Linked DNA regions of Homo sapiens: region 2 is linked to region 1. The links come from fine-mapping of genetic effects on gene expression. A gene starts in region 1. The other region holds a variant in brackets. All regions are shown on one strand. Distances are from middle to middle. Region 1 holds the start of TTLL2 (tubulin tyrosine ligase like 2). Region 2 has its middle 26 kb from the start of TTLL2.

Region 1 (8,000 bases):
CAGCCCACCTTCTCCTAGCGTCCCGAGGACAGATCACGCCAGCTGAAAGAAGATCTGAGTCTGGGGAAGGAATCAGGAAACTTGTCTTCCTTCCTCCTTCCCCTTTTCTTCCCATGGGGTCAGCACCCTGGAAGGGGTAGGAAATCCAGAAGGAAGCACGTGTGTGGCGGGAATCATTCTTGAGAGAGCTGCGGGTGCCACGGGGCCAGCCACGCTCCTTCCCCCGAGACCGCCTGCCCAGGCCCCTGCTCGGCCAGACCCGCACACAAAGGAGCAGCGGCCGGAGACGTGGTGCCCTGGTGGACAGGGGCTGTACCGTGGCCTCAAGGAACGTGCATGGGCAGAGAACAGTCTCCTGTGGTGAAAGACAGATGCCGCCGTGGGTTTCCCCTGGTGACTATAAAGCCTCCATCCTACCCACGTTGCAAATGTCCCACTCTGCTCCCTCCTGTGCCTGACTCACTATCCCTGTCTGGAGAGCATCTGTCCGACTCCCAACGCGACACGCCCTCCCTCAGTCCCTGACTCCCTCCCTTCCCTTAGTCATTCTGTTTGCAAAAATAAGACAAAACAAAAATCTACACAGGCGTTCGACCAGACCGCTTTGGAAGGTAAAGTCTCACACCGGGAACGCAAAGCAAGTTATTTATCTCCCATGACGCCTCCGTCTGCCTGTCCTGATGCGTGTGGGCAATAGGAAGCCTCCTTCCTTAGGGAATAGTTCTTTCCTGCCCATTGCTGGCAGGGCAGGCTTTGCTTCATCTCCAGCCATGGCCTAAAAGGGCACCAATGACAGGGTGGGCCTTTGAAAATATGGCCCTGAAACCCAGAGGGTTTACCTGTTCAACTTGGAAGTGTGCCCATGAGCACCCGTGTGTGTGTGTGCACATCCGATGAGCTGCACAGTCCACACACTCAGCTCCGAGGAGAGCACAGCGGCCTTGAAGAGAAGCAGATTCGGGAACCTCACATTCAATACTGAGCCATGGATCTCACTCGGCCTCCAAGTACAGGAGAAAGCCCCACCCACCACCCCTGTCCCTCCTTCCCGGGCCTTCCCGCCAGGCCAGCCCCCTTCCAGGGCCGTCCCCTCACTCCTCCCTCACCTGCCCAGTCCTGCAGAAGGCAATTGTGATTTCTGTTTTTGCAGCAACCTTTCCTGAGACCTCATCTATCTGTTCCACTTCCATCCTTAACCCTGACAAATTCCAAGCAGGTCTCATTCTCATCATGCAAGAAAATTAATAAGCAGATTAGGATATTTATTCATTCATCCAAGAAGTATGTACTTAATATCAAGCATTTGCTAAGTGCCACATATTGACCTAGATATAGTGAATCAAGCAGGCATTAAACGGCAATGTTTTGTTCTCAATAAGTTTCTATTCTACAGAAAAAATGTAAAATCGGTTTGTGGGTGGCCAGAGGCAGGAAGAGCAATGGAATTGGGTGAGGGCATGAGGACAGACATGGCACAGCTGTGTGCAGGGCGGAAACACCGCTTCCTCTGACGAGGTGGTGGGAGAGGCTGCAGCACCCAGCGGGAAAGCCAGGGAGGTAAAGCAGGGGCTGAGGTCTGAGAGGAGGCCCACGGAGGGGGCCCAGATCGCACAGGGCCCAGCACCGAGGTAAGGCCCTTAAGTTTTATTCTGAGCCACATGGGAACCCGTATTCATTTCCTAGGGTGTCATAATAAAGCACCACAAATTTGAGTGGCAAAAACAGCAGGAATTCATTCATTTTCTCACAGTTTAGAGGCCAGAATTCTATCAAGATGGCAGTAGGGCCAGGCCCTTCTGAAAACCCTAAGGGAGGGTACTTCCTGGCTCTTCAGCTTCCGGAGCTGCGGGCCATCCCCAGTGTTCCTTGGCCCGTAGATGGACCACTCCAATCTCTGCTGCCATCTCCATGCGGCCTCTTCCCCATGTGTCTGTATCTTTGCTCAGCCTTCTCCTCTGTGTCTCTGTGTCTAGTTCCTCTAAGAGGAACTTCATGCCACTGGTGTCCACAGAAGGACACTAGTCATATTGGATTAACCACATCTGCAACAGCCCCATTTCCAAAGGTCACACTCTGAGGTTCTGGGAAGACATGAATTTTGGGGGACACTGTTGATCCCAGTACAGAACCTGCTAGAAGGCCTTGATTAGAGGAGTGGCAGGCATGAAGTGACTTCTTTATAAAAAGATCATTCTGGCTACAAGAAGCATTTTAAAAAGAACATGCTTATGTAACCAGCACCCAGAGCAGGTCATGGAACGCCACCAGCAGCAGCCGAGACCCTGGGGACCCAACACCACCACTTCCCCCAAGGCAACAGCTTCCAAAACTGGAGGCTCGTTTTATGTACTGAATTTGATGTATCTCTGTCTTCATTAACATTTATTATGAAAGCATCATGTTCATTATAGTCCTTCAAACAGTACTGAAGTAAAGATGGTAATAAAAGTCCATTCTCAGTTAATATTGACTATCTCCCCCAGTGAATCAGGTACTGTGCTCGTCGGGGGGTTTTTGAGGAATGCTAACTGGAAAAATGTCTAGGCTTTGGCCACCGGGTTGGGAAGATCTTTGGGAGGCACAGAAGTCCCCCCGAATTCCCTTAAGCCACGCTGTTTTTCAGTCTTTCTCCCTCAGGCTCAGTAGAGGGTAGAAGGGGTTCTCCTTCCATCAACCACCTGGGATGAGAGTCTTGATGCTCACTGGAGGGATAGGATAGGGGTGTCATAAAATGGAGAAAATTCTACGTATTGGTACAGAGTTTTCTTGCACTTTGCCAAAATTATAGATGTAAACATCATAATGAATCTAACCTCCTCTTGATTCCACAGGAGGGTGCGTAAAATAAGTGTGTTCTGGTGCCAACAGTGGGAAGCGGGGGATAGATTTATGCCATAATAGTGGGCATTTGTGAGTTCCACACAACAGAACATAGGGAGCCCCCAAGCACGCTGACTGCAGCACGAAGCCAGGGCGGGAGGAGACGCTGGACCAACACTGTGGTGGGATCCAGTGCTCCTCTGGGTTGGGTCTCTGACGTTAAAGTCCAGAATCTGTGTGGTCAGTCCCTAGGAGGTGCAAAGCCCATCTCCAAGCCTTTCCATATCCAGTAACCAGGAGTTAGGTGGAGAACTGAAGCCAAGGAGAGGAGTGAGCCCCATGTGAAATCAGGGAAATAATCAAAGGGAACAACAAATGGTTTGGGGAAATGTGTTTGCTTCTAGTGCTCACTTCAGACAAAAATACATTTTTATAAAAAATGCACACCGCATATTTTTCTTGCCAAAATGCCCCTAGGAGTCTCCTCTAGTCTTGATAGCTTTGCCCTTCTTCTGCCAGATACCCAAGTGGAGAGTCAGCACGAAGTCTCGGAGGTGCAGGTGTAACATCTCCAATGGAAGGGACAGATGAAACATGGCTGAGTAAATGCATGATTTACAAATCGACACACCAGTGATCTGAGCCCAGGTGCTCTTGCTTGTGCCAGGATTGCCTTCCCTGGGAGTGCAGGAAGCCCAGATAAAGTAACCCCACCCACCCACCCTTCCTCGCACGCTCAGGAAGACAGTCCTGGTGGAAGAACCTCATTTCACTTCATTTTTACAAAATTTACCCCACCACGTGCTGGGAGAAAAACAATAAATAATTAACAATGCATGAACATGTCAAATGGAAAAAGAAAAATGCCTTTCAGATTATATCTTATGAATGACTTTTGTTCTTGGTTTGTGGATAAGGAAATTAGCCATGTTTCCCTGTGCTTGACAGAACTTGGGCAACCTCCTCAGCAGCTTGGTGTGCAGTTTTTATAGAGTTACGTGAAGCAATTGATTGTTTCTGGAAGACGGTGGCAATGCCTGTAATCGAATAGATGGCAATAAAGCATTCAACTGTCATCCACAGAGGCAGCCACTTGCCAGAGCCAACATGTGCCGAGGGTAGAGAGTCTACGGCTCTGAGACGCCTGGCAAGGCCTCTCCAGTTCCTGCAGTCCTGAACCTCAGGGGTGGTGGCCGGAGGCCGTTAGATTAGCGAGGACACAGCCTGAGCTGGAAGGAGGGGTCCAACTGGGATCTCTGACACAAACATGGCTTAAACAAAAAGACACGTAATTCATTTTGGAATCTCAACTGCTTTTGTGTAGACATAACTTTTTTTTTTTTTTTTTTTTTGAGATGGAGTCTTGCTCTGTCGCCCGGCTAGAGTGCAGCGGCGCAATCATGGCTCACTGCAATGTCCACCTCCTGGGTTCAAGCAGTTCTCCTGCCTCAGCTTCCCAATTAGCTGGGATTACAGGCACCCACCACCATGACCAACTAATTTTTGTATTTTTTTTAGTAGAGACGGGATTTCAACTCGATTATCTCCATCTCCTGACCTTGTAATCTGCCTGCCTTGGCCTCACAAAGTGCTGGGATTACAGGCATGAGCCACCGCACCCAGCCCACGTTAAATATTAAGATTCCATGCAGGCGAAGCAACAGGAGAACCTGGCAAGAACAGATGCCACCCCGCCAGGCAGCCCACAAGGCCTGCCCCCTGTGTGCTGGCCGCTGAGGCCTGAGGCATGGGGACTGGCAGGAGGCCCACTGGGTCGGAGAGAGAACTCTGAAGCTTGGAGGGAGGAAGGTGTGATGAAGCCTGGGTCCCTGTCCCTAAGGGGTCCTGACAGTCTGGGCCCCACCCTGAGTCTATGACTGGCTTCCCCTTTGTGAGGAGAGCAGACCCTGCATCATCAGCAACCAGTGCTCCCTCCAGCCTCCGCGCATTTCAGCTGGCGCTGCAGCTGCTGCACAGAGACCCACAGAGGCCACCCTCGGAACCAGCGCCCAATGAGAGGGCGGGACCTGTGTTCCTCCACACAAAGCCAGGCGCTGGGGTAAGCGTAGGAGGCGACACGTAGGATGGGAGGGTGGCCCCGATCATGCCTCTGTTCCAGGACCAGCCCCTTCCCGAGAGCACAGGGGCCAGGGTCACTAGGAGCAGCGAGTGTGCACTGGGACCCCCGAGGGGCAATTTGTAGTCAGCCCTTCATACTCCTTCAAGGGAAAAGCAGTCCAGCATTGTATGAAGTCATGTACTTTTCAATCCAAAAATTTCCTATGGTGTCCAGTGCCTCCTGCATGCTGAGGTGCCAGTTATATAAGAGTGAACGAAGTAGACCCATTCCTGAGACTAAAGTTACCAAAGGAGGGGAGTGTAAGTTAACTGCATCCCATAGTGGGTACAGGAAATTCAACTGAATTCAACCAAAGCCGATTGAATGGCCGCTGTGCTCTGGGAACTGTGACAGATGCTAGGGTTATGAGACGGAACTGGATCATCTATGAAACACACATGGTTGTAATTCAGGGCCGAGCAGAATTGTTTCCATAGGATAAGTGTGAAGTGGTATGGACCCCACGGGGGAAAAGAAAATCCCCCCAGTGTAGAAAGGAAGGGCTTCAAGGAGGAGTGGGCATTCATGCTGGGCTTCCTGGGAGAGGTGGGCTTCCATCAGCAGAAACTCAGGGGCTCTAGGGGCATTTGAGGCTGAGGAGGGTGGGCTGAAGCACTGGGCTCCTGTTGTCACATGCGAGCGGGAAGCGGGCTGTGACAGGCCGAACAGCGGCCGAGAACGGGTGCAAGGCCGTGAGTGCCTGCCGGCCTGTAGCCTCCACACCGCAGGCAGAGGTCATGATGAGGGAAGAGATCACACCTGCCCATCTCCAGTCTTCAAAGAGGCAAAGTCAGCTCTCCCAACTTGGGCTAGTGATGGCGTTTGCGTTTCAAGCAGCTCAGTCTACCCCGGGTTTGTTGGAAATGAGGCTACTCTGGGTGTCTTGGGGCTGAGCGTACACATGGGACTTGATCTTTGACCTCTGCGACCTTAGAACTTTCTTGAGAAAACAGAACTTTCCTGATAATTAACAGAAAAAATAGTGCATGATTTCTGGTTTAATAATAAAATAATTATTCTGTGTTTCAAGCAATACAAATTTTTATTCAAAAGAACATTTAGGTAGGAAGTTTTTTTAAGTTGGTCAACTCAAAAAACGGGACTGTCTCATCTATAATTGGGGTGAAAAGCATTCTACATTCCATATAAACTATAAGCCACAGCTATCAACTATGCATCAGGAAAGGTGACAAGCAGAATGTGGACCATTTACAGGCCAAGTGCTTGAGGGTGACTGATCTCCACAAATGGCTTCAATGACCTAGAACAATCACGCACAAGGCCTGCAGCTACTGTGCGTTCCTACCCAATAAAGGTGGGATATTTTCTATGTCTACACCAAGCTTGTCCAATCCGAAGTCCTTGGGTCTCATGCAACCCAGGAGAGCTTTGAATGTGGCCCAACACAAATTTGTAAACTTTCTTAAAACATCATGAATTTTTTGTGATTTTGTTTTGTGTTTTTAGCTCATCAGCTGTCGTTAGTGTGAGTGTATTTTATGTGTGGCCCAAGACAATTCTTCTTCCAATGGGCCCAGGGCAGCCAAAAGACTGGACACCCCTGGTAGACAATGTAAATCAAAGAAAATGACCACCGCAAGTCTCAATCATTTAAGAAGTTTATGTGCCAAGGTTAAGGATGTACCCAGGAAAAAGAACACAGAACCACAGGAAAAGGCTGTGGCTTATGCTTTTTCCCCCATAGAGGGTCTGGGGACCTTAATAAGTAAAGAGAAAAGAGTAGGTATTGGGGGAAAGAGGAAGGAAAAAAAAAGGAGGGTCTGTAAGAGGGAAGCAGTTGCAACTTTTTGAATCTTTGGTCAGCATTCACTGAATACACATTTTATAAGTGGGGCGGGTAGAGGAACAGTCGCTTAGCATTCGTCTTGCTTAGTGAAACTTCATTTTTATATAAGATGAAATAAACATAGGACAGAGGATGCCATCAGTTATGCATTTGCCTCAGGTAAATGGAGGGATGACTTTGAGTTCTGTCCTTTGTCCCGTGCCTGTGAAGATGAGTTATCATCTTACATTGTCAGGGTGAAATTCAGCAGAACTGTTCTTGGGTAAAGATCTTGGAGCCCACCAGGAATTTCCTTGTGAGGGAGGTCTGTATGTAGCTTTTGCATCTTTGCAGCCATCTTCTTTAGGAGTAAAATGGGAGGCAGGTTTGCCTGATGCAGTTCCCAGCTTGACTTTTCCCTTTGGCTTAGTGGGTTTGTGGTCTTGAGATTTATTTTCCTTTTACAACAACTCACTTCTAAATTTGGAACTCACTGTGCTAAGCCGTGTGGAACAACAGCTGTGTGTATGAATTTTACATTCACACCAAGATGGCATATAGGTTTTTACATATTTACGGCTTGGCTACAGGGGTGGCTATTAATAGTTAAAAAGTGAAGGAAACCATATTCGCACAAGAGAAACGGAAACATACAGGTTATGTATGGTGAATCTCCAGGAATTCCAAGTAAAGCAGGGAAATGCTTTTGTAATTAACCTCTGAAATCCTAAAAGTATAGGTCTTTTTATATAAAAATGTACACTTTTCTTTCTATCTCTTGCACATGAAAGAGGCAAAGAGCAGCATTGCCTATTCATTGGCGGATGTTTTCTTTGGTTCTCTATGTTGGTGAAAACTCCTTTTACAGCATCTGGTATCAAGGTCACTTGAGAAGGGCCCCTCTCCTTGACCCCAAAATATTTTCTCCTCATTTCAGTTCGATGACACCTGAAATTCCTGGTGTTGAATCACATGGTTTAACCCTTCAGCTGGATCCCGGTCAAATGGAAAGTTGCTCTGGGGCTCTGTCCTGTAAGCAGTGAATGTGCCAAAAAGATAAAATGTGAAGAAAAAGACTCTTAGTTATTTTTGCAGAGCCTGTCTTGGATGGAAGAAAGCACCAAAACTAGGAGCTGTCGGCTAAGGAGGCTGCCGTCCCTGGGAGCCGCTCTCTCCTACTGCATCCTGTTGTCCCTCAGTCTTCTGGGCAAATCAGTGGGCCCTCATCTAGAGATCGGGATTCCCGCAGTGATGGAATACATTATTTTTGGCTGA
Region 2 (10,552 bases), 27 kb after region 1:
GCAAACTCAAACAAATTCAGTAAAGTTGCAGGATACAAAATCAACAAGCAAAAAGCAGTTGCATTTCTACACACTAACAACAAACTATATAAAAAAGAAATTAAGAAAATCTCATTTACAATAACATCAAAACAATAAAAATACTTAGCAGTAAATTTAACCAAAGAGGTGAAAAATATGTACGCTGAAAATTGTAAAATGTGATGAAAGAAATTGAAGATGACACATATTAAAATATTATCCTGTGTTCATAAACTGTCAGAATGAATATTGTTAAAATGTCTGCACTACCCAAAGCAATCTACAGATTCAATACAATTTCTATCAAAATCCCAATATCATTTTTCATAGAAATAGAAAACACAATCCTAAAATTTGTATGGAACCACAAGAGACCCCAAATAGACACAGCAATCCTGAACATAGAGAACAGAGCTAGAAGCATAGCACTATTTATTTTCAAAACAGATTACAAAGCTAGAGTAACCAAGCCAGCATGGTGGTTGCATGAACACATACGCATCGACCAGTGGGACGGGATAGAGAGGCCAGAAATCAAGCCACGTATTTACAGGGAATTGATCTTTGACTAAGGTGCCAAGAACACACAACAGGAAAGAGCAGTCTCTTCATCAAATGGTGCTGGGAAAACTAAGTGCAGAAAGATGAGATTGGACCTTTTGTTCACACCACATACAAAAATCAACTCAAAATGGATTAGAGGCCCAAACAAAAGACCTGAAACTGTGCAAGTACTAGAACAAAACATAAGGAAAAAGCTGCACAACATTGGTCTGGTCAATGATTTCTTGGATATCACCCCAAAAGAGTAGGTAACAAAAACAAAAATAAATGGGATTAGATCAAACTAAAAGCGCCTACACAGCAAAGGAAACAACAGAGGGGAGACACAACCCCCAGGCTGGGAGGAAATATTTGTAAACTCTGTATGTGATAAGGGGCTAGTTTCAAAAATATATTTAAAAATTCAAATACGAGCAAAGGACCTGACTAGACATTCTCAAAAGAAGACACACAAATGGCCGAGAGATACATGAAAAAATGCTCACTATCATGAATCATCAGGGAAATGCAAATTAAAACCACTAGAGCACTTCATACCTGTTAGAATGGATATTATTAAAAAGGTGATCCATTACAATATCCCTTCTAACAGGTATGAAGTGATATCACACTTTGTGTTTTGCTGGGGATGTGGAGAAAAGGAAGTCTTTGTACACTGCTAGTAGGAATGTAAATTAATACAGCCATTGTTTTAAAAAAGTATGGATGTTCCTCAAGAAACAAAAAATGGAATTACCATATGATCCAGCAATCCCACTTCTGGGTATATTTTCAAGAGAAATGAAATCAACATGTCAAAGAGATGTCTGCACCTCCATGTTCCTGGCATCATTATTCCCCATAAGACACGGAAGCAACCGAAGTGTCCAACCACAGATGAGTGGATAAAGAAAGGCTGGTGTATATCTACAATGAAACGCCATTCAGCCTTTAAAAAAGAAGGACACTGTCATTTGTGACAACATGGGTAAACCTAAAACACATTATGCTAAGTGAAGAAAGCCAGGCGCAGAAAAATAAGTATCACAGGTCTTCCCTTGTACATGTAATCTAAAAATGTTAAGTTAATTGAAGTAGAGAGTAGAATGCTGGTTACCAGAGGCTGAGGAGTGGGTAGGGGTGGCAAATGAAGAAATGCTAGTCAAAGGGTACAAAGTTCAGTGAGGCAGAAGAACTAAGTTCTATGAAGCCGTGGTGGGGAACTGCTGCGGGAGGGGCCGGGGGAGCGGCTGCGCTCTTGGTCGGCCAAGTGGAAACCCATGTGCCTTGGTCTGTGGGCCTGGCTGAGGCGATGCAGCTCTCCCAGGAGCAGAGAATCACCCTGGCAGGAGCGTGGAATCCTGGCTGAGTTCTTCCCATTTGGTATCAACAGCATTTTATATCAGCACAGCACATACCCACCTGAAGCCTTCATTGGAGTGCAGAGTACAGACTCACCTTGCTTGTAACTACAGATCCTGTGCTCATACAATACCTAAATAATGTGCTCGAACAACCAAAGGATTGGCTATACAAATGTTCGTTCATAAATTCGCCACAGTCATTGCAAATATTGAAAGTGGTGATGTCCTTGAAGGAAGGCACTTTGATACTGAGTGTGACAAGACTGCAAAAGATGACGGTGCACCCAGAGAACAGAGAGCGCACCCAGAGAAAGGAGGACAGGTAACCCAGAGAAAGGAGGACACTGAACCCAGAGAAAAGTCTCAGAAAGCTATCCAGGACAAAATCCATCCAGCGATCAGATGAACCACAGTTAGTGACATTTCTGCAACTGTTGAATTTTCTTGTTCATTCGATCTATGATTTATGCAAAGATCTGGTTGTACCTGGAAGATGGGAAGAGTGGGGACCACAGTTCATGACCAATCCGAGCAAGTCTCCCTTCATTCATTTGCTGCTACATCCACACAGCTCACAGCGTGGTGACCCACAAAACCTTGTCAATGACCGAGGATGACATGAGGAAGATAGTGTAATTTTCAAACGTGGTTTTCCTGAAACCAAGTCAACTATAGCTGATATGTTTTATTTCACTGGTTAATGTTGACATGGGAAAAACCAATATTATACTTTACTGAACTTTGTGTAATTGGTCAATTTTTTTGATACCTGTTAGGCTTACCATGGGGTTGACATAATGAATTTATTGCACATTGTTCAAAAGGAACCAGGAGGTTTTTGTCAGCACCGTAGTGTAAATTCCATTGCAGATGGTAACTGTAGATGGAAAAACTTTTGCTATAAAATGAAATGCTTCCTTAAATCAGACATTCTGGTAAAGTGGCTTGACTCAGCACAGGTAGGGAGATATTTAAATATAAAATACAATGAAAGCAGTCTAAATATTTAGAATCTTGGTTTAGATCCTGAAAGTAACTAATAATCCATAAGCAATGCAATATTGCTCTACTGGATCCTTTTGACATTTATTTCATCATGTAGTTTTCCATATTTAATAAATTTACAGATTTAATTTATATAACTTGAACCTATGAAGGAACAGATATTTCTACTGTTTAATGTCCTGTGATGTAGAACTCTTGAAAAAATTTTTTATTTTATATAATCAAGCTTTAAGTAAAAAATGAAGAAATAAAGTTAAACGTGTTATTATTTTTTAATTAATTAATTAATTATTTTTTTTTGGCAGAGTCTTGCTCTGTCGCCAGGCTGGAGTGCAGTGGCGCCATCTCGGCTCACTGCAACTTCCGCCTCATAGGTTCAAGTCATTCTCCTGCCTCAGCCTCCTGAGTAGCTGGGACTACAGGTGAGTGCCACCATGCCCAGCTAATTTTTGCATTTTAGTAGAGACGGGGTTTCACCGTGTTGGTCTTGAACTCCTGACCTTGTGATCTGCCTGCCTCGGCCTCCCAAAGTGCTGGAATAAAAGAAGTTCTAGTGATCTGTTGCATAGCATGGTGACGATAGTCAATAATAATGTAGTGTATATTTCGAAATTGCTAAAATAATAGATTTTCAATGTTTTCTTCACACAGAAAAAATGATGCCTGTAAAGTAATGGATATGTTATTTAGCTTCATTCAATCATTCCACAATGCAAACATACATCAAAACTTCACATTGTACCTAAGAAATATATACAATTACCGTCGGTTGAAATTATTTTGAAAGAGGCCAGATTAAGCTGCTGCAAGTAGGGATGCAGAGTGGGTGGCACAACTGCAAAGAGCAAGGGTCACCGCCAGGGTCAAGACAGTGACCTCTAACCGTGGCTGGGTGCACAGGGAGACTGCGGGTACAGCTGACAAAGCCTATGACCTCATCCAGGCGTGGGGGTGTGCACCTGTGGTCCCAGCTACTCCAGAGGCTGATGCAGGAGAATTGCTTGAACCTGGGAGGCGGAGGTTGCAGTGAGCTGAGATCGCGCCACTGCACTCCAGCCTGGGAGACAGAGTGAGAGTCTGTGAAAAAAGAAAAAAAAAAAAAAGGCTGTGACTTGACCTGCATGGAGTTCAGAGAAAAGGCAGGAGAAAAAACATGTTCCGGGGAATTTAGACACGAGACTGGAATGAACACTTTGTTCATTGCCTGTTTTCACGCATTTATACATTTATACGTTCTCAACTCTGTTCCAGGAAAGATTTAAAGGACGCAAGTAAGAACGCAAGCCCGTCAAGGCTGCTCCGATTTTAAATGTCAGTTCAGCTCCTACTTTATGGGGTTTGGCAAATAGAGTTAAGGGCCTTTTCCTCAAATGCTCAAACATTCCAATGAGACTAAATCAAGCAACTGGAATCGCTTGAAAACCAGAGACCAGATTCCATTCTCCCTCCGTTTTTTTGAAATCTTCACTTCTTTATCACTAGCTGGGTTTCGATGACTCTTCAGGTGTAAAGGTCAACCTCACAGAAATGGGAAAACCTGTGTTGTTAGGAAGGATGGTTTTATGTGAGCATTTGAAGTTTTAGGGCAAGAATGGCCTCGGGCCATCTGTCAGGAGAAGCTGCCACATCTGGCAGTATCTCTCCTAGGGTGAAACGTGCGCAGATTAAATTGAAGTAATAACGAGCTCACGTGGAGTCTGAGACGAGACAGGAAATTTGTATGCACGGCATGTGCCTTCGGTGCCCGGGCTATGGAGGAAAGAACACAGACAGTCTTCCTGAGGTGGGGCAGACAAAACCGGTGAAAGTGAAGGAGAATTAAGGCGCTACACGGTGGTCATTCAAAAAGCCTCAGAATTCCCCTCCTAAGAAGATGGAACAGGCGTGCGTTTTCCTCCGTCCCGCAGGTGCAACCGGAAACCTCGGGCAGTGCCCATCAGACAAACGCAGGAAGACGAGAGGCGGAGAGAGGAAGCCCGGGGGAGCCGGGGGACCCTGAGAACGACAGGGTGGGGCGTTCCTGGGTTTTTTTTTTTTTGACTCTTCCACCCCAAACTGGGTGCTCACAAGGACGCGGAGGAAGACAGCCACCGCTGCTGTCTCCAGCCAGAGCACTGGGAGAGGCGCGGCTCCAGGAAACATTTCAAGGACCCTGGGAAATGGGTGGAGATCTCCGAATCTAAAAAACCTTCAGGAGACTGGAAGTGTTTTGAAGTTGAGGGTTGTGGTTCTTTCTCATTTGGTTTCAAAACAGGATCCCCATTTCCCTTAATGTAGGATTCGAAGGCATAAGCAGAAGAGGAAAGGGGTGTCAAGGTCAGAGCCGCCTAGAAGCAGAAGCGCAGGCCAGCGAGATGCTCTTCAGAGTGACTTCGCTGTGGGCTGCGGCAGGCAACAGAAGGAACTCAGCATCCACTGGCCACGATCCCCTCCCCGGAGCGGAGGACAGAGCCCAGTTTCTTCAGGCGGTGGCTCCAGCCAGCTCTGCCCCACAGGGAAGGAGCGCGCAGCTGCCACACACCGCAGGCAGCGCTGACAGACTCGGCCTTCCGGGAGCGCAGGCGGGTGGGGGGCGCCGCCCTTGTCGCTGTCCGGAGCCCCGCAGGCCCGTGGCCCCCTGCCTGGTTCTCCCGCCTCTGCAAGCCTAGCCTTCAGGACTCCGCCTCGCCCCCCTCTTTTCTGTTCGGAGACTCACGGGGCCGTCTGTCTGGACCACGTGTGCACATTTCTGACCACGATTCCTCCGCACACCAGCTACAGGCACCGCAGCGCTGGGGACGGCACAGCTGAACTGTGCTGGCAGCGAAGGGGCCTCACGGGGACGGCTCAGCTCCCTGAGGGCGCAACCCACCTGGTCCGGGGGCGGGGGGGGGGGTGAGGAATAAACTTCCGCGGTTTTCAGTGACCCAGTTTGTTGCATGGCACATGTTGGAAAGGTGAAT[CTGACCGCGT/C]TGACCGCGTTACTTCAGAGATGCGCTGTGAGCTGCTTTGTGCCGCGAAATGACCTGTTTACCCGACAGCGCCCTCTGCAGCCCAGCGCCGGAACGGGCTTTTTCATGATGTTCCTGCGTTGTGTTTACAGCCTCCCTGCGAGGGGTTCGCACGCACAGGCGGACCTCGTTTTGTTGCGCCTTGCTCTATTGTGCCTCGCAGATACTGCACTTGTTTTTACAAATTGGAAGTTTGTGGTAACTCCGTTGGGGCACATCTGTGGGTCCCGTTTTCAAACAGCTTGTGCTCACTTCATATCTCTGTTTCACATTTTGGTAATTCTTGTAATATTTCGAATTTTTTCATTATCATTATATCTGTCATGGTGATCTGTACTTAGTGATCTTCGATTTTACTCTGTAATTGTTTTGGGGAACCAACAACTGCACCCACGTAAGACAGAAAACGTAATAAATGTCACGTGTGTTCCACATGCTCCACTGACCAGCTGCCCCCATCTCTCTCCCTCCCCTCAGGCCTCCCTATTCCCATTACACTATTAATAACCTACAACGGCCTCTAAGTGTTCAAGTAAAAGGAAGAGACACACATCTCTCACTTTAAATCGAAAGCTAGAGATGATTAAGCTTAGTGGGGAAAGCCTGTTCAAAGTTAAGATAGACTGAAAGCAAGGCCTTTTGCACCCAGGAGTTAGCTCAGTTGTGAATGCAAAGAAAAACCTCTTAAAGGAAATTAAAAGTGCTGCTTCAGTGAACACATGAATGACGAGAAAGTGAAACAGCTTTATTGCTGATATGGATCCCTCAAGCCAAAGCCTAATCCAGAGCAAGGCCTCAACTCTCTTCAGTTCCGCAAAGACTGAGAGGAGTGAGAAAGCTGTAGAAGAAAAGTTTGAATGTAGCAGAGGTTGGTTCATGAGGTTTAAGGAAATAAACCATGTCCATAACATAAAAGTGCAACATGAAGCAACAAGTGCTGATGGAGAAGCTGCAGCAAGTTATCCAGAGACCTAGCTAAGGTAAGTGATGGAGGTGGCCACACCAAACCACAGATTGTCAGTGTAGATGAAACAGCCTTCTGTTGGAAGAAGATGCCATCTAGGACTTTCATAGCTAGAGAGGAGAAGTCAATGCCTATCTTCAAACTTCCAAGGACAGGATGTCTCTTGCTAAGAGCTAATGCAGCTGGTGACTTAAACTTGCGGCCAATCTCATTTACTATTCCGAAAATCCTAGGGCCCTTAAGAATTTTGCTAAATCAGGAGGCCGAGGTGGGTGGATCACCAGAAGTCAGGAGTTTGAGACCAGCCTGACCAACATGGAGAAACCCCGTCTCTACTAAAAAAAAAAAAAATACAAAAAATTTGCCAAGCATGGTGGTGGGTGCCTGTAATACCAGCTACTCTGGAGGCTGAGAAAGGAGAATTGCTTGAATCCGGGAGGCGGAGGTTGCGGTGAGCCAAGATCATGCCATCATACTCCAGCCTGGACAACAAGAGTCAAACTCTGTCTCAAAAAAAAAAAAAAAAAAAAAAAAAAAAAAAAGAATTATGCTAAATCTACTCTGTCTTGGCTCTATAAGTAGAATAACAAAGCCGGATGGGAGCACATCTGTTTACAGAGTGGTTTACTGAATATTTTGAGGCCACTGTTGAGATCTACTGCTCAGAAAAAAAGACTATTTTCAAATTATTACTGTTCATTGACAATGCACCCAAGGGCTCTGATGGAGATGTGCAAGGAGAGGAATGTTGCTTTCATGCCTGCTAACACCACATCCATTCTGCAGCCCATGGATCAAGGAGTAATTTCAACTTTCAAGTCTTGTTACTTAAGAAATACATCTCAAAAGGCTATAGCTGCCATAGATAGTGATTCCTCAGATGGATCTGGGCAAAGTCAATTAAAAACCATCTAGAAAGGATTCACCATTCTAGATGCCATTAACAACATTCATGATTCACGGGAGGAGAACCAATATCAACATTAACAGGAGTTTAGAAGAAGTTGATTTCATTCCTCATGAATGATTTTGAGGGGTTCAAGCCTTCACTGCAGAAAGTAACTGTAGATGAGGTGGAAATAACAAAAGAACTAGAATTAGAAGTGGGGCCTAAAAATGTGACTGAATTGCTGCAATCTCAGGATAAAATTTGAACAGATCAGGAGTGGCTTCTTATGGTTGAGGAAAGAAAGTGGTTTCTTGAGATAGAATTGACTCCTGGTGAAGATGCTGTGAACGTTATTGATATGACAACAAATGATTTAGAATATTCCATGAACTTAGTTGATGGGGCAGTGGGTAGGGTTTGAGGGGATTGACTCCAATTTTAAAAGAAGTTGTACTGTGGGTAAAATGCTATCAAACAGCATCGCATGCTACAGAGAAACCTTTCATGAGAGGAAGAGTCAGTCAATGCAGTAAATTTCATTGTGGTCTTATTTCAGATATTGCCACAGTCACCCCAACCTTCAGCAACCTCCACCCTGATCAGTCAGCAGCCATCAACATCCAGGCAAGGCCCTCCACCAGCAAAACAATTATAACTCACTGAGGGCTCAGATGATCATTAGCATTTTTTAAATCAATACACTATTTTTAAATTAAGATATGTTCATATTTTAGACATAATGCTATTATACACTTAATAGACTACAGTATAATATAAACCAAACTTTTATAGGCACTGGGGAAACAAAATATTTGTGTGACTTGCTCTGTTGCAATATGGGCTTTATTGTGGTGGCCTGGAACCAAATCCACAGTATCCCCAAGGCCTGCCTGTAAGGTGAGGCAGCAGCCTAGGAGCTAGTGCAGCCTGCCAGGTGCTGTGTGTTCCCAGCAAGCAAGGACACTTGGGAAGTGATACAAAGACAGAAAAGTTTTGGTCGTTTGAGAATCAACTCATAATAAAAAATAAATAATGAAATATGGTTAATTGAAGTAAGTTGATTACAAACTGAAAATGATATTCAGAAGAAAAAAGTTATATACAAAGATGGTTGTGATACAAAAGAATATAATGACACATTTAATTTTATTCCCTTTAATAAATGAGGAATGTGGTCTTACTCCTTCCATTGTCTGCTTCTAAAGTATAGATATAAACCTGTATCTATCTGCAGATGCAGATAAGAAACCTGGGAAACCACAAGAAAGCCAAGTAGCCTGGGAAAAAATGGGCATTGAGCCAAGAGCAAAAAATAAGAGTCGATCCCGTTGGTGCCACCTGACAGCAGAGATGGCTGAGGACCCCCGAGCGTGAGTCCAGAGAGCTGCCCTGCAGCCCCACCCTGCCTTTCCAGGATGAACCTTCTCTGGGAAGCCACTGCTCATTCGGAAAGTGAAGAATGCCTGTGTTTCCAACACCAACACCAGCTCTCCTGACGTCTCAGAATGCCAGGACCACGCGTGATGGAACACCAGGCAGGGGAGACTCAAATATACAAGGCGAGAGGCCAGGCAGGGCCAGCGTCTCCCTCAGGCACATGAGGGCCCACGATACTTTTAGGAACCCACGAAAATGTTTTAATTTCTCTTAAAAATCAGAAGGAAACAAATAAACTCTTAGGTATAAGAAAATGTTTCAATATACACGATTGATATATCCACCTTTATACAAATGCAGTAACAAAACTTACGTGTTTAAATTTTTTAATGGAAAAAAGATCCCACAAAGGCAATGAAAGTCATGATGTGGCCTGATCCCAGGTTGCAAAAAACTAAAACATTTGTGAACGGCGTTCATTAGAAACACAAGAATGCTAATGTAGCATGTCAGGTTTAACCATAAAATGTTGAATACGATGTCCAGTGACTTGAGTTTAAAATGCTGGAGGAGGAATAACCAGAGAGTAACACAGTTTCCGCTGTCACACCCACACCCACAGCAAGACGAACTACAGAATTTCTGTTTTTCTTTTTAAAGCAGGGAAAGAAGTAAAAATGACAACAAAATATAATTATAGTAATAATTCTAGGAAAATATAAAAATTAAATATAGAATAATGAGGAAATGGTTAATGCTGTAGAGTAGGTTCAAAGTGGAGGTAAGAAGTAGGTGATAATCTGAATTGTTTGGTTGTGTCTCTTGTATAAGGTATTTGTTCAAAAGAATCAGCCATGCTAAAACTATAATTGCAGTACTCATTAAGACAACTTAATTAGAATCAATCTTTAAGTGCTCAAGCAAAGGTTGTTTCAAAGGTGAATTTGATAAACTGAGCATCAGAGTCCTCATTTTTGGGCGTCAGCCTCCATGTTGAAATCCCTTTCACTTTAACACCAATAATCAGAGTTCACGAGGCCCCTCTCCATGTTCTCACCTCTTCGTTTGCTCCAGAGCCTCTGAGGCTCCACTCTCCACTCTAGCTGCTGGGGAGAGAAGGTGAAGGTGACTGAGCTCCATCCTCAATGTGTTCTCTAGATGGGGACGGGCAGGTCCCAGGGTCATTGGGATACAGTGTGAGGAGGACCCGAGGGGTGCAGGGTTCAGGGAGCTCTTGGGGGCTTTAGCCTGGGGATGGAGCAGGGTGAGCCAAGGAAGGTTTGCAGAAGGAATGATGAGTCGGAGGAAGCAGGACTGACCTAAGGGAGGGCCTTCTGCTTGATGTCGGCCATGAGGAGCAGGAGAGAAGGGGCGGGAGGGGCTGCGCCTGATGGCCATG

What was found.
Region 2: its variant is fine-mapped to the expression of TTLL2 in spleen (GTEx, PIP above 0.99). The same link has a PIP of 0.9 or more in prefrontal cortex.

Annotation. Positions count from the first base shown.
Region 1 is chr6:167,320,342-167,328,341 of GRCh38, forward strand. It overlaps TTLL2 (tubulin tyrosine ligase like 2), which reads left to right and starts at 4,745. Exons shown (of 3, transcript NM_031949.5): 1 at 4,745-4,879. The coding sequence starts at 4,833. RefSeq lists an enhancer at 4,284-4,785.
Region 2 is chr6:167,345,599-167,356,150 of GRCh38, forward strand. It overlaps the pseudogene LOC100421518. Among named protein-coding and RNA genes, the nearest start is that of TTLL2, 26 kb to the left of the region's middle. RefSeq lists enhancers at 5,381-6,059, 5,883-6,177, 10,487-10,552 and a silencer at 5,401-5,670. The variant CTGACCGCGT/C (reference allele first, on the strand shown) is at 5,876.